Regions from separate parts of the Homo sapiens genome. Here region 2 is linked to region 1. The links come from fine-mapping of genetic effects on gene expression. Tissue or cell type: whole blood. Region 1 holds a variant in brackets; the other region holds the start of a gene. All regions are shown on one strand. Distances are between the middles of the regions.

Region 1 (8,000 bases):
TGTGGTCCCAGCTAATGGGGAGGCTAAGGCAGAAGGATCACCTGAACCCAAGAGATTGAGGCTGCAGTGAGCCATGTTCATGCCACTGTACTCCAGCCTGGGTGACAGACTAAGATCCTGTCTCAAAAAAAAAAAAAAAAAAATGTGGCCGGGTGCGGTGGCTCACGCCTGTAATCCCAGCACTTTGGGAGGCCAAGGTGGGCGAATCACGAGTCAGGAGTTCGAGACCAGCCTGGCCAACATGGTGAAACCTTATCTCTACTAAAAATACAAAAAAATTAGCTGGGCGTAGTGGCGGGCACCTGTAATCCCAGCTACTCGGGAGGCTGACGCAGGAGAATCGCTTCAACCCAGGAGGCAGAGGTTGCAGTGAGCCGAGATCCCGCACCGCACTCCAGCCCATGCGACGAGTGAGACTCTGTCTCAAAAAAAAAAAAAAAAAAGAAAGAAAGAAAACAAAAAGTATAGTGTATTTCATTGTGTATTTTATCCCTGCAAGAATAACTGAATGCGGCCGGGCGTGGTGGCTCATGCCTATAATCCTAGCACTTTGGGAGTCCGAGGCGGGTGGATCACCTGAGGTCAGGGGTTCGAAACCATCCTGGCCAATATGCCAAAACCCCATCTTTACTAAAAATACAAAATTAGCCGAGCATGGTGGCGCATGCCTGTAATTCCAGCTACTTGGAAGGCTGAGGCAGAATTCCTTTAACTTGGGAGGCGGAGGTTGCAGTGAGCTGATACCGCACCATTGCACTCCAGCCTGGGCAACAAGAGTGAAACTCCGTTTCTAAATAAATAAATAAATAACTGTGGATGCATGTTTAAGACTCTATGTATTTTGCAACTTTAAAAGGTCTTTTAATCGTTTATTTTGTTGCTGTTGTTTTTGAGACAGGATCTCACCCTGTTACCAGTCTGTAGTGCAGTGTAACGATTATAGTTCACTGTAGTCTTGAATTCCTGGCCTCAGATGATCCTCTGCTGCAGCCACCTAAGTAGCTGAGGCCACAGGCATGTTCCACCATGCCCAGCAATTTTTTTTTTTTTTTTTTTTTTTTGTAGAGGCAGAGGTCTTGCTTTGTTGTCCAGGCTGGTCTTGAACTCCTGTTCTCAAGTGATGCTCCCTACCTGACTAATGTTTGTATTTTTCGTAGAGACAAGGTTTCACCATGTTGGTCAGGCTGGCCTCGGACTCCTGACCTCATGTGATCCACCCGCCTCAGCCTCCCAAAGTGCTGGGATTATAGGCGTGAGCCACTGCGCCTGGCCTATTGTATATTTTCATTGGTCATTCATACACCTGGTAGAGAGAATTTCAAAAATTACAAAGATTACTAGAGTGAAAATTCTGTCTACTCTTATCTGTGCCCCCTACCCCCCAGTTCTTCTCCCAGAAGCCACCACTACAATCAGCCTCCTGTGTGTCTACTCCAAAATCCGGTGTATGATTTTACAGGCAGATTTGCAAGTCTGTTCTGCACCAGAGAGTTTAGATTTTATGTGGCAAATGATGGAACAGTATTTCGTTTCTTTCTTTTTTCTTGTTTCATAGAGACAGGGTCTCGCCGTGTTGCCCAGGCAGATCTCAAACTTCTGGGCTCAAGCGATCTGCCCGCCTTGGCCTCCCAAAGTGCTGCGATTATGGGTGTGAGTCACCTCGCCTGGCTTTTTTTTTTTTTTTTTTTTTTTTGAGACGGAGTCTCGCTCTGTCGCCCAGGCTGGAGTGCAGTGGCGTGATCTTGGCTCACTGCAAGCTCCGCCTCCCAGGTTCACGCCATTCTCCCACCTCAGCCTCCTGAGTAGCTGGGACTACAGGTGCCCGCCACCACGCCTGGCTAATTTTTGTATTTTTAGTAGAGACGGTTTCACCATGTTAGCCAGGATGGTCTCAAACTCCTGACCTTGTGATTCCACCCCTCATCCCCCACAACAGATCTGTATCATCCATCCATGCCCTGTGCCTTTTGTTTTTTTTTTTTTTTTTTGAGACACAGTCTCATTCTGTCACCCAGGCTAGAATGCAGTGGTGCGATCCCGGCTCACTGTAACCTCCTCCACCTCCTGGGTTCAAGTAATTCTCCTGCCTCAACCTCCTGAGTAGCTGGGATTACAGGCAGACACCACCACGCCCAGCTAATTTTTGTATTTTTAGTAGAGATGGGGTTTTGCCATATTGGCCAGGCTGGTCTCGAACTCCTGACCTCAAATGATCCGCCTGCCTCAGCCTCCCAAAGTGCTGGGATTACAGGCGTGAGCCACCACACTAGGCCGCCTGGCTTAGTTTCTTAGTGATTTATTAGGCACCTACTGTGCACCACTGGTACACCAGTAAATCCAGCAAACACTTTTGAAATATTCACAGTCCAATGCAGAGGCCTGAAGGATCAGAGTTCAGGAGGGGAGTCTACAGGGTCTGTGGGCGTCCACAGGAGGAATTCCCAACCACGGGGGCAGGGTCTTGGGGTGGTCTTATGAAGCTGTAGCCTGAGAGCTAAGGCTTGAGGACTTTGTCCAGAGGAGAAAGTCTGTTTCAGGTTGAGAGAACAGCAGTCGCAGAGGCCAGGAGTGAGGAAAGACTGACAGGGGGCAGAGGTGGCTGAACCTTTCGGACTACCCACTGCATGCTTCCTTTGTTTTTGTTGTTGTTGTTTGAGACAGGGTCTCACTCTGTCACCCAGGCTGGAGTGCAGTGGTGTGATTTCAGCTCACTGAAACCTCTGTGCTGGTGTGCGACTGTAGTCCCAGCTTCTCAGGAGGCTAAGATGGGAGGATCACTTGAACCCGGGAGGCGGAGGTTGCAGTGAGCTGAGATTGCGCCACTGCACTCCAGCCCAGGTGACAGATCGAGACTTTGTCTCAAAAAAATAAAAAAGCAAATCTTCACCTCTGACCTTTCTGACCCTCTTCTCTTGCCCTATATTAATATTTATCTTCTTTTTTTTGAGACAGTGTTCCACTCTGCCACCCAGGCTGGAGTGCAATGTCGAGATCTTGGTTCACTGCAACCTCTGTCTCTGGGGCTCAAGTGATCCTCCCACCTTGGTCTTTTGAGTAGCTGGGACTACACGTGTGTGCTACCACACCTGGCTATTTAAAAATATATATATATTTGTAGACACGAGGTCTCACCACATTGCCCAGGCTAGTCTTAGACTCCTCGGCTC[C/T]AGCAGTTCTCCTGCCTTAGCCTCCCAAAGTGCTGGGATTACAGATGTTAGCCACCACATCTGGCCTAATGGTTATCTTCTTCTTCTTCTTTTTTTTTTTTTTTTGAGACAGAGTTTTGCTCTTGTTGCCCAGGCTAGAGTGCAATGGCACAGTCTCAGCTTACTGCAACCTCCATCTCCCAGGTTCAAGCGATTCTCCTGCCTTAGCCTCCCAAGTAGCTGGGATTACAGGCGCCTGCCACCACACTCGGCTAATTTTTTTGTATTTTGAATAGAGATGGGGTTTCACCATGTTGGCCAGGCTGGTCTCAAACTCCTGACCTTGTGATCTGCCCACCTCGGCCTCCCAAAGTGCTGGGATTACAGGCGTGAGCCACTGCACCTGGCTAAAAATGCTTTTTGTCTGCCTCTCCCATTAGAATGTAAACTCACCCAAGGCTGGAATTTTCCTCTATCCTATTACCTGCTGTAGCTTCAGCACTCAGCATAGTGTCTGGACCACAGTACATGCTCAATAAATGTTTCTTTAGTTCTTTTGTTTTTCTTTTTAGAGACAGAGTCTCACTCTGTCACTTAGGCTGGAGTGCAGTGGCATGATCATAGTTCACTGCAGCCTGCAACTCCCGGGCTCAAGTAATCCTCCTGCCTCAGCCTCCCGAGTAGCTGGGACCACAGGCATGCACCACCACACCCAGCTAATAAATGTTTCCTGAGTGAATTCCTTTGTTCATCCTGTTGCAGGGGTATTGCTAACAACAGAGGACTTTCTCCCTATGTCCCTGGGTCTCAAATCTCTGTCCACCTGAGGTCACTGGGCACGTAAGGTGCCCATACATGATTATTCATTCAGTAACACTGGTTTGAATCCAGGCACTGCCACTAATTGGCTGGATGGCCTTGGGCAAGTGGGAGCTGTGGCCTCCTAATCTGTAAGTGAAATACACACAAACCCTCCCCTACGGGGCTGTGTTGAGAATGAATTCTTCCTTCCACCCTCACTCCTCATCATCTGTTACCCATCCCCTAGAGGTAGGCTGTAAACATCTGAGTCAGGTCACTTCCCTCTTCTGCTTAGAACCCTCAGTGCCTTCATTTCACTTAGCACTAAAACCAAAGTCCTCATGCAACCCTCAAGTCCCCGCAGGACCTGCCCTAACCTTCCATTCTCCTGTTCCCCTTCCTCCATGGCTTTAGCCGCCCTGGCCTCCTCACCAGAACCCAGAACCCACCAATCACATTCCATTTCCCCGTTAATATCTATTTTTGTTTCTTTTATTATTTTATTCTTTTAAAAAACATGCTGAGGGCCAGGCGTGGTGGCTCACACCTGTAATCCCAGCACTTAGAGAGGCCGAGGTGGGCAGATGACTTGAGGTCAGGAGTTCGAGGCCAGCCTGGCCAACGTGGTGAAACCTTGTCTCTCTAAAAATACAAAAATTAGCCAGGTGTGGTGGCAGGCGCCTATAATCCCAGCTACTTGGGAGGCTGAGGCAGGAGAATTGTTTGAACCTGGGAGGCGGAGGTTGTAGTGAGCTGTGATTATGCCACTGCATTCCAGCCTGGGTGACAGTGAGACACTGTCTCAAATAAAACAGAACAAAACAAAACAAAACAAAACAAAACATGATGGAGTCTCACTATGCTGCCCAGGCTGGTCTCCAACTCCTGGCCTCTAGTGATTCACCACTTTAGCCTCTCAAAATTCTGGGATTACAAGCTTCAGACACCATGCCCAGCCTCCCCTGAATATCTGTATGTCTCACTCTTTCATCTCCTTTGGCTCTTTACTGAAATGCCACCTTCTTAGGTGACAATGCATCTAAACTTATCCTTCCCTTCCTACTCCAGCTTTTATTTTTTATCTTTTAGAGGCAGAGTCTCCGTCTGTCGCCCAGGCTGGAGTGCAGTGGCAGGATCATAGGTCATTGCAAGCTTTACCTCCTGGGCTCAAGCCATCCTCACACTCAGCCTCCTGAGTAGCTGGGACTACAGGCACATGCCACCACACTGGGCTGACTTGTTTTATTTTTGGTAGAGACAGAGACCCACTGTGCTGGCCAGGCTGGTCTCAAATTCCTGGCCTCAAGCTGTCCTCCAGCCTCGGCTTCCCAAAGTGCTGGAATTACAGGCATGAGCCACTGCACCTGGTCCCTACCCCAGTTTACACAGCATTCCCCAACTGGCATATTGATTATGAGTCTTTTTTTTTTTTTTTGAGACGGAGTTTCACTCTTGTTGTCCAGGCTGGAGTGCAATGGCATGATCTCTGCTCACTGCAACCTCCGCCTCCTGGGTTCAAGTGATTCTCCTACCTCAGTCTCCTGAGCAGCTGGGACTACAGACACACGCCACCACGCCCAGCTAATTTTCGTATTTTTAGTAGAGACGAGGTTTCACCATGTTGGCCAGGATGGTATCGATCTCTTGACCTCGTGATCCGCCTGCCTCAGCCTCCCAAAGTGCTGAGATTACAGGCGTGAGCCACTGCACCCTGCCTTTTTGTATTTTTAGTAGAGACACGGTTTCACCATGTTGTCCAGGCTGGTCTCAAACACCTGGCCTCAAGTGATCTGCCCGCCTTGGCCTCCCAAAGTGCTGGGATTACAAGCGTGAGCCACCGCGTCCGGCCCCCAGTTATGAGTCTTAATAAAAGGGCAGTAACGACCAGGGGACCTTCACACCAAAAGGCTCAAAGTTTGACCATTTTGAGCCAAGCCTGGGGAGAGGTCAAAGGCCAATGCAACCAGCCCTCTCCTGTGGATCAAAGGCTCAATTGCAGGTGACCTCTGTCCTTGGTAGTGTGGGACCAGCATCAACCCTGTAATCCAGAGAGGGTCTTTGCTGGCTGTGGGTATCACACCAATTTAGGGGGCACATATCAGATGCGGGAAGGCCCCTCAACATCTGGCCTCAGCTTTTCCTCCATTACTGAACAAGGGTTCTCACAAAGGCCAGGGGTCAGGCCTGCAATACTGGGGGGCAGCCCCCCAAAAAGAAGGTACAGAGCATGAGGTCGGTGGCTAAAGTGATCCGCCCAACTCAGCCTCCCAAAATGTAGGGATTACAGGCTTGAGCCACCTCACCCAGTCAATTTTCTTCATCTTTAAAATGGGATTGGCTGGGTGTAATGGCTCACGCCTGTAATCAGCACTTTGGGAAGCCGAGGAGGGTGGATCATTTAAGGTCAGGAGTTTGAGACCAACCTGACCAACATGATGAAACCCCGTCTCTACTAAAAATACAAAAATTAGCCCGGCATGGTGGCGGGCGCCTGTAATTCCAGCTACTCAGGAGGCTGAGTGACGAGAATTGCTTGAGCCCGGGAGGCAGAGGTTGCAGTGAGCCAAGATTGCGCCACTGCACTTCAGCCTGGGTGACAGAGCAAGACTCCATCTCAAAAAAAAAAAAAAAAAAAGTACAGGGCATGGATGGATGACACAGATCTGTTGGTGGGGGGTGAGGGGTGGTCTCCTATACTAGGGAGAGCTGCCTAAAGCGCCCCTCCCCCATCAACTGTCCAAACATCTGCTGTTTGTTTGTTTTCAGCTCAGCTTGTGTGTAACTGCCAAGCTCCGTGAGGGGGCAAAGCCTCCCACGGAGGGCCTCCCCGCAGTGGGGCTGATTTGCATGGATATTTTCATTCCCTACAGTTCCCTGAGCAACCAGGACAGGCGTGAAGGGTAGAAAAAAAGCCACAGAACTAGCCCTCCAGGCAGGTGTTGGCGAGAACCAGAGAGTCCAACCTCCTTGAGGGCCTGAGACCCTGGGCATGTCACATTGGCTCTCCAGGCCTCAGTTTCCTCCTCTGTAAAATGGGGGTATAGTTGCCCCTACCCACATGGTTCTTGCAGGGCTTAAGCCTGCGAGCCCTGGCATCATCTAGTCCCTGTGCTGTTCTCCCTGCATGGCTCGGGGCTGACCTCTGCACGGGACATCTCCCCTGCCAACTGGCTTCTGGCCACATTTAGCCAATGGGAGGCACTGGGGGCAGATTTTCCGAGAGGAAGGTAGGAGAAGCCAAGATATTTCTTTTCTCTTCTTTTCTTTTTTGAGACGGAGTTTCGCTCTTGTCGCCCAGGCTGGAGTGCAATGGCACGATCTCAGCTCACTGCAACCTCCACCTCCTGGGTTCAAGTGATTCTCCCGCCTCAGCCTCCCAAGTAGCTGGGATTACAGGCACGCACCACCATGCCCGGCTAATTTGGTATTTTTAGTAGAGACGGGGTTTCACCATGTTGGTCAGACTGGTCTTGAACTCCTGACCTCAGGTGATTCACCTGCCTCAGCCGCCCAAAGTGCTGGGATTACAAGCGTGAGTCACCGCACCCGGCCTCTTTTTGCTTTTTTTCTAGGGATAGGGTCTTACTCTGTCACCCAGGCTGTAGTGCAGTGGCACAATCATAGCTCACTGCAGCCTCGACCTCCTGGGCTGACGTGATCCTTCTGCCTCAACCTCCTGAGTAGCTGGAACCACAGGTGCGTGCAACCATACATGGATTTTTTTTTTAAAGATTTTTAAAATAGAGATGGGGGTCTCCTATATTACCCAGGCTGGTCTCAAACCCCTGGCTTCAAGTGATCCTCCCACCTTGGCCTCTCAAAGTGCTGGGATTACAGTCATGAACCACTGCACCCAGCCCAAGATATTTCTCCCCATATGCCTCTGGTAGCACCTCCCATTAGATATCATCTTCCTATATGGTAATTTCTATTTAAATTTTTTACATGGTCTGCCATATCCTTTATTTTTATTATATTTTTTAAGAGATGAGGTTTGGCTATGTTGCCCAGGCCGGAGTCCAACTCCTGGGCTCAAGTGATCCTCCTGCCTCA
Region 2 (8,000 bases), 25 kb before region 1:
ACGAGACTCTGTCTCCAAAAAAAAAAAAAAAAAAATTATGAGCAAACAAGATAATTAATAACTGATGTTAATATGAGCTTTGACAAAAACAAAACAGGGTGATAGAATAGACAGTGCTTTGGTGACAGGGTAATGTTTCAGCAGAGATCTAAATGACGAGAAAGGGCTGGCTGTCCGGAGAAAAGGGAAATAAGTTCCAGGCAAGTACAGATGTCCCGGGGCAGGGTGGCTGGAGCTGAGTGAGCAAGGATGAAGAGGGGGAGATTAATTCAGGAAGATCCCGTGAGCACTGAAGGCCATGCTAAAGATGTGTTCTTTTATTTTTTTTTTTTTTGAGATGGAGTCTCGCTTTGTCACTCAGACTGGAGTGCAGTGGCGCAATCTCAGCTCACTGCAACCTTTGCCTCCCGGGTTCAAGTGATTCTCCTGCCTCAGCCTCCAGAGTATCTGGGATTACAGGCAAGCACCACCACGCCCAGCTAATTTTTGTATTTTTAATAGAGACGGGGTTTCGCCACGTCGGCCAGCCTGCTCTCAAACTCCTGGCCTCAAGTGATCCGCCCGCCTCAGCCTCCCAAAGTGCTGGGATTACAGGCGTGAACCACCACGCCCAGCCACATGTGTTCTTTATACTGAGGGCAATAGGGAGCCATGGAAGGACTTTAGCCATCACTTTTTTTTTTTTAAACGGGTCTCCCTCTGTTACCCAGGCTGGAATACAGTGGCACAATCATAGCTCACTGTAACCTTGAACTCCTGGGCTCAAGTGATCCTCCCATCTCAGCCTCCCAAGTAGCTGGGACTACAGGACACCACCATACCCGGCTAATATTTGAAAAACATTTTTTTTTTTTTGAGACGGAGTTTAGCTCTTGTTGCCCAGGCTGGAGTGCAATGGCACGATCTCAGTTCACCGCAACCTCCGCCTCCCAGGTTCAAGCGATTCTCCTGCCTCAGCCTCCCGAGTAGCTGGGATTACAGGCATGCGCCACCACGCCCGGGTAATTTTGTACTTTTAGTAGAGACGGGGTTTCTCCATGTTGGTCAGGCTGGTCTCAAACTCCTGACCTCAGGTAATCCGCCCGCCTCAGCCTCCCAAAGTGCTGGGATTATAGGTGTGAGCCACCGCGCCTGGCCCTGAAAAACATTTTTGTAGAGATGGGGTCTCACTATGTTGCTAAGGCTGGTCTCAAACTCCTGGCCTCAAGTGATCCTCCCGCCTAAGCCTCCCAAAATGCCAGGATTACAGGTGTGAGCCACTGTGTCCAACCAGATTTTAATGTGAAGTTGGTGCCCTCCTCCCTCCTAAGAAGTCAGGTGGAGACAGTCAGCCCTCCAGGAATCAGACTGGCTCCTCACTCCCTGAGACACGTAGTTTCCCCCTCTTTGGGCCTCAATTTCCCCATCTGTAAGGTGGGTGAGTATAGCCACCCCATCCCTTGCTAATACAAGTAACTCAGCACAGGATGGGTAGCAACTGGCTACCTTGCAGGTAAGAAAGAAGGGGCTTACGGGGTGGGCACTGTGGCTCACGCATGTAATCCCAGCACTTTGGGAGGCAGGGTGGGCAGATCATGAGGTCAGGAAATCGAGACCATCCTGGCTAACACAGTGATTAGCCGGGTGTGATGGCACATGCCTGTAGTCCCAGCTACTCAGGGAGGCTGAGGCAGGAGAATCGTTTGAACCTGGGAGGCAGAGGTTGCAGTGAGCCGAGATCACGCCACTGCACTCCAGCCTGGGCGACAGAGTGAGACTCCGTCTCAAAAAAAAAAAAAAAAAAAAAAGAAAAGAAAAGAAAGAAAGAAGGGGCTTATTTGGATCAGGTCCCTCAGATTCTGCTGCCTCCGAAGGTGGGAAAAAATGTCTGAGCCCAGCACTGCCTCACTCAAAGATTCCTGTCTCAGATTTGTTCTATCTTGGATGGGGGTGTGAGGACACTGGCTCCATACATTCTCCAAGGGAGATTCTGGGACCATTCCCATTTCATAGAGAGAAATGGTTACTCAGCTAGAAAGCAGTGCGATCTGGGTCTGAGTCCGGATCAGAACGCTTTGTTTTTTGAGACAGAATCTCGCTATGTCTCCCAGGCTGGAGTGCAGTGGCACAATCTTGGTTCACTGCAACCTCAGCCTCGTGGGCTTAAGGGATTTTCCTCCCTCAGCCTCCCGAGCAGCTGGGATCACAGGCGCCCACCACCATGCCAGCTAATTTTTGTATTTTTAGTAGAGACGGGATGTTGCCATGTTGGCCAGGCTGGTCTCAAACTCCTGACCTTAAGTGATTCGCCCGCCTGGGGCTCCTAAAGTGTTGGGATTACTGGCATGAACTACCGTGCTGGCCTGGATCTCAGGCTTTGTTGAGCTGTTAACCAAGCTGTCAATCTCCCACCCTCCTGGTTCCCCAAACTTACACCACCATGAAAGACCCTCTGACCCCTTCCCTCTTCCCTAGCTGGGCTGGAGCTGGGGGAGGGTGTGCTGGGGCGTCCCACTTCTCAGCTTTGGGCCACGGATAAGTCAGCTCTGGAATTCCCCCAAGTAGAAGCAGCCCTGGACTTCCCCAGGGGCAGAGAGGATGAGGAACAGAATATACATCTTGAGGGGGGTGGGGGTCCCTTAAGCCTTGTTGGGTTGGCACAGAGCCAAGTTCCCAAACCATCATGATCGAGTCCTGGGGCCAGGTGCTGCGCTGGGCCAAGATACCCTGCCAGGTGGCCGCTATAACGTTTCCCGTTTTACAGCTGAGAAACTGTAAGAGACGCAATCTAGCCAAGCAAGGCGGTGGTTCACACCTCTCATCCCAGCTACTCGGGAGGCTGAGGCAGGAGGTAAGGCTAGACCCCCGGAGTTCAAGACCGGCCTGGGCAACAAAACGAGGCCCGCCCCTCCCCTCCATCTCCAACCCCCTACCCTTTTTTAAAGCTGCAATCTATAGCCCAAGGCCACACGTGGAGGTATGCAGGGTCTGGATTCGAACCTACTGGCTGTTGCCTTTCAATCGCTGTCTCTAGCCCCTCCTTCCCATAAACAGCTACCTAAGCATGCATGACCTGACCCGGGAGCCGGTCCTCCCGGGGCTTCGGAGAACTGGCCCGACGGCAATCCCCACCCCGACTCACCTGGGAACAGAGCCCCGAGCAGGACCAGGAGTGCGGGCAGCGCGGGCCGGGGGCTGCTGGGAGCCATAGCGAGGCTGAGGTTGCAACTCTGAGTAGCAGAGGAGCTCAGCGTCGACTGGGGCGCGTGATCCTTTATAGCGCTAGCCACCTGGGGGCCAAGGGGCGGTGCTGCTTTCCCGGAAACCTCGCGCCTTCCCCTCCGGAACAAATGCTGCAGTTATTTCCGGACTGACAGGGTGCCCGGGCCGAGAGGGTCATCCTCCCTCGCTGGCCGCTTCAGCTCCGGAATTTCCAAGCTAAAGCAATCGGGCGGCGGTGGCAGGGCGATGACCCCGGGGGCTGCTCCCGGCCTCCACGCCTCCCGTTTCCCGGCCAGGCTAAGCTTGAATCACGGTCTACACCGCGCTAAGCGGTTTATTAAGTACTTTTAAATACTGCCAACTTCCCCGGAGAGTGGAGACTGTTATTGTGTCCATTTCACAAAGCGGTAAACTGAGACTCCAGGCTGCGAGGGGGTCCGAACTCAAGTCCTCCCTCTCCAGCTTACGCAGGCCTCTTTAATCGAGTGGATGAGCCCCCTGCCTGGGTGGGGGCCCAGGAATCCTCCCCGGGCTCCCTCCACTGAGGGATGCCCCTCCCCCTAGGTCACGTCCACACCTAGCTGACACGGGCATTTCTCGAGAAGCGGCCAGAGCAGAGCCAGGCACCTCCCGGCGACCGCTAACCGTGGGAGTGACGAAGCGCGGTCTCACCACGTCCGGGGAAATCGGCGTCCTCTCTCTACACCCGAGGGCACTCACCCCGGCGGCCTCCTCGCTTCCCCTTTCGGCCTTGGCCGCGGAGGCGTCTTTACAGCTCCCAGAAAAAGGAAGGAAGCTGCGTGATCCCTACGCGCCGAGCCCCTCCGCTGGCGTCCCAGGCTCCGCGGGGAAACTGAGGCAGCTAGCTTGGATCTTGACGAGGGAGGGGAGGGGGACGCTCGAAATCCCTGCCTGTCGCTGGGAAACTGAGGCAGCAGCCCCCAGGCGCAGAGGCGAGGCAGGGAGAAGGGGCGCTCGAACCCCTGCCCTACGCGCGAGGCTCCGGCAACTCGAACCCAGGCTCATGCACTAAATATGAGCGGGTGTTTGCTTGGCCACCGCCTGTGCGTGTGACCCCAAGACTCGACATCCACCACGTCGAGGCTGGGTACTCTTAAGTCTCCGAGCACCAAGCCGCGCCGCCTAAGGCTTTCCTGTTGTGGGGCGCGCGCGGCGTCGCCATGGAGATCTCCGAGGGGCCAGGGAGGTCGCGCAGCAGAAGGGGAAGCGAAGGGTCCCCGGACGCGCAGGCCCTTCCTATCGGGGAAGGGGGCTGCGAGTCACTGGCCATCCAGAGACGCATATTTCCCCCGCCTCGGTCATTCCCAAGGAATTTCCACGGGGATATTTTTTTCTTGGGGGGCTGAGGAGTTCTGAATTCCCGCCCCGGAACGGCCTGAGCAAAGTCACAGGGTGGGACGGGGGACGCCCCTGGTCCTCAGAAGGCCTGGGAAAATCCTGCGCCACGGGTTCTTCCTCGGGCGGGTTCCACTGAGCTCTTGCCCCGGCCCGAGGTGCGCGAGCTCCCCCGCGCGGCCCAAGTCCCACTTGCAGCCACAATGGTGCCGTTCTTTTCTCAACATGTGGCTCAATGTTTTTTAAGCGCCTACTGTGTGCTTGGCGTCCTTCCAGGTACTGGGGACACAGGAATGAACAGAGTCAGACAAAAATCCACCTGGGCGCGGCTCCCACCTGTAATCCCAGCATTTTGGGAGGCCGAGATGGGAGGATCACTTGAGCCCAGGAGTTCAAGACCAGCCTGGGCAACATAGGGAGACCCCCATCTCTATGCAAAATACAAAAATTAGCCGGGTGTGGTGGTGCACACCTGTAATTCCACCTACTTGGGAGGCTGATGCAGGAGAATCTCTTGAACCCGGCAGGCGGAGGTTGCAGTGAGCCAAGATAGAGGCACTGCACTCCAGCCTGGGTGAGAGTGAGACTCAAAAAAAAAAAAAAAAAAAAAAAAAAAGGAACAGCCAGGAGAACAGTGTGGCTGGAGCAGGCTTAGCAAAGGAGAGATTCGAGGAGAGGAGCGGGCAGGGAGATGACAGGGCAGATAGGTGCAAGTTCCTGTCACCTGAGGAGGACTTTGTTGTTTTGTTTGTTTGTTTCTGAACCCCAGTCTCGTTCTGTCACCCAGGCTGGAGCACAGTGGTGTGATCTCGGCTCACTGCAAACTCTGCCTCCCAGGTTCAAGCGATTCTCCCACCTCAGCCTACCGAGTAGCTGGTACTACAGGGGTGCGTCACCACGCCTAGCTAATTTTTGTATTTTTAGTAGAGATGGGGTTTCACCATGTTGGTCTCTAACTCCTGACCTCTAGTGATCCGCCCCCCTTGGCCTCCCAAAGTGCTGGGATAACAGATGTGAGCCACCGTGCCTGGCCAGGACTTTGGCTTTTATGCCCAGCGAGGTGGGAGGTATAGAGGGTTCTGAGCAGAGGAAGGACCTTGCCCTAACTCAAGTGTTCACAGGGGCCCAGTTGAGGCTTCAAGAGCTGCAGCCAGGAGATGGGAGAGGAGGTGACTGTTCTAGTCCAGATGAATGATAGTGGGGCCTGGACTGGGCAGTGTCCTTGGAGAAAGGGCTGAATTTGACATCCGTTTTGGAGGCTGGGCCAACTGGAGGTGCTGGGACAAGGGGGATGACTCCTTGATCAGGGTCCGAGCCTTTTGGAGGATGGCGGGTCACTTTCTGAGATGGGAGTGGGATGGCTATGGTAGGGGGCAGGCTGGCAGAGAGAGACGGCACCTCCCAGTCCTCCGTTCCCTTAAGCGTTTTTCAAGGAAAAGGGAAGCAGATATTTCCTAGACCTTTGTTTCTGTCTCCAGGAAGGGCAGGGCTTCCTCCCGGTTGCCAGACAGTCAGGCAGGCCAAAGAATGGCCTCAGACCAGAGGCTGCCCACCAAGGGCAGAAGCCATCCCATAGTGTCCCATGCAAACGCCTTGCAGTTCCCTCAGCCTGGAATGCTCTTCCCTTCAACCCCAACAAGGCTGGCTCCTCCTGTCTTGTGGCCTGAGCTTTCTCCTAAATGAGTGTCCCCCCTACTCCATCCTGGGCCACATCCTGGGCGTTCCTTGTCACTCGCCTTAATATTCGAATTCCTTAACTCATTACTTGCTGAATTTCTTTTTTAATTTTTTGAGACAGAGTTTCACTCTGTCACCCTGGCTAGAGTGCAGTGGCACGATCTCAGCTCACTGCAACCCCTGCCTCCCAGGTTTAAGTGATTCTCCTGCCTCAGCCTCCCGAGTAGCTGGGATTACAGACATACGCCACCAGACCCGGCTAATTTTTGTGTTTTTAGTAGAGACGGGGTTACACCATGTTGGCCAGCCTGGTCTCAAACTCCTGACCTCAAGTGATCCACCTGCCTTGGCCTCCCAAAGGGCTGGGATTATAGGCATGAGCCACTGCTCCCGGCCTATTTAGTTTTTTTTTTTTTTTTTTTTTTGAGACAAAGTCTCGCTCTGTTGTCCAGGCTGGAGTACAGAGGTGTGATCTCGGCTCACTGCAACCTCCGTTTCCTAGGTTCAAGAAATTCTTCTGCCTTAGCCTCCCAAATAGCTGGGATTACAGGCACCCACCAACACCCCTGGCTAACTTTTGTATTTTTTTTTTTTTTCAAGATGGAGTCTCACTCTGTGGCCCAGGCTGGAGTGCAGTGGTGCGATCTCGGCTCACTGCAACCTCCACCTCCCAGGTTCAAGTGATTCTCCTGCCTCAGCCTCCCAAATAGCTGGGACTACAGGTGCGTGTCACCACGCACAGCTAATTTTTTGTATTTTTAGTAGAGACAGGGTTTCACCGTGTTAGCCAGGATGGTCTCGATCTTCTTACCTCATTATCTGCCTGCCTCACCCTCCCAAAGTGCTGGGATTACAGGCGTGAGCAAACGCACCCGGCCAACTTTTGTATTTTTATTTTACTTTTCATTTTATTTATGTAAATTTTTGTGAGGTCGTCTCACTCCGTCGCCCAGGCTGGAGTGCAGTGGTGCAATCTCGGCTCACTGCAACCTCTACTTCCCAGGTTCAAGCGATTCTCTTGCCTCAGCCTCCCAGGTAGCTGAGACTACAGGTACCCACCACCACATCTAGCTAATTTTTGTATTTTTAGTAGAGATGAGGTTTTACCATGTTGGCCTGGCAGGTCTAGAACTCCTGACCTCAGGTGATCCGCCCGCCTTGGCCTCCAAAAGGCGTGAGCCACTGTGCCCGGCAGAGCTTATCTTTGATTACAGATTTCTTCTGGGGAATAGCTTAGTTTGTGGTTTTGTTTTTCAAAACTCTGCTTCAGCAAAGATGTGGGGAAAAAAAAAGGGCTATGGAAACTCTTCTGATTCCAGTTTTGGTGATGGAAGACAGCCACCAGGAAACCCTGCCGAAAGAATGGGTCAGATCAATAATCTGAGCGGTCCCAGTCCTCCTCCAATGGCTGATGGATGAGGAAGGTAAATATCAGTTCTAAGAAGCAGACAACTGGACATGCACATTCATAGCAGAAGGAAACCGTCAAAAAGTAGAGGGAAGGTGGGGTGCAGTGGCTCACCCCTGTAATCCCAGCCCTTTGAGAGACTGAGGTGGGAAGATCACTTGAGATCAGGAGTTCAAGACCAGCCTGGGCAACACAGTGAGAACCTGTCTCTACAAAAAACAAAATAAGTAATCCCAGCACTTTGGGAGGCCGAGGCAGGCGGATCACGAGGTCAGGAGATCGAGACTATCCTGGCTAACACAGTGAAACCCCATCTCTACTAAAAATACAAAAATTAGCCGGGAGTGGTGGTGGGCGC

What was found. PIP is the estimated chance that this variant, and not a neighbour inherited with it, causes the effect.
Region 2: ICAM1 starts here. The variant in region 1 is fine-mapped to the expression of ICAM1 in whole blood (TOPMed, PIP above 0.99).

The regions. Positions count from the first base shown.
Region 1 is chr19:10,241,725-10,249,724 of GRCh38, reverse strand. No RefSeq gene overlaps it. Among named protein-coding and RNA genes, the nearest start is that of MRPL4, 6.5 kb to the left of the region's middle. RefSeq lists an enhancer at 7,034-7,113. The variant C/T (reference allele first, on the strand shown) is at 3,168.
Region 2 is chr19:10,266,348-10,274,347 of GRCh38, reverse strand. It overlaps ICAM1 (intercellular adhesion molecule 1), which reads right to left and starts at 3,228. Exons shown (of 7, transcript NM_000201.3): 1 at 3,122-3,228. The coding sequence starts at 3,188. It overlaps LIMASI (lncRNA inflammatory and mucous response associated, antisense to ICAM1), which reads left to right. Exons shown (of 4, transcript XR_007067138.1): 2 at 7,554-7,658. RefSeq lists enhancers at 2,427-2,666, 3,577-3,666 and a silencer at 6,021-6,315.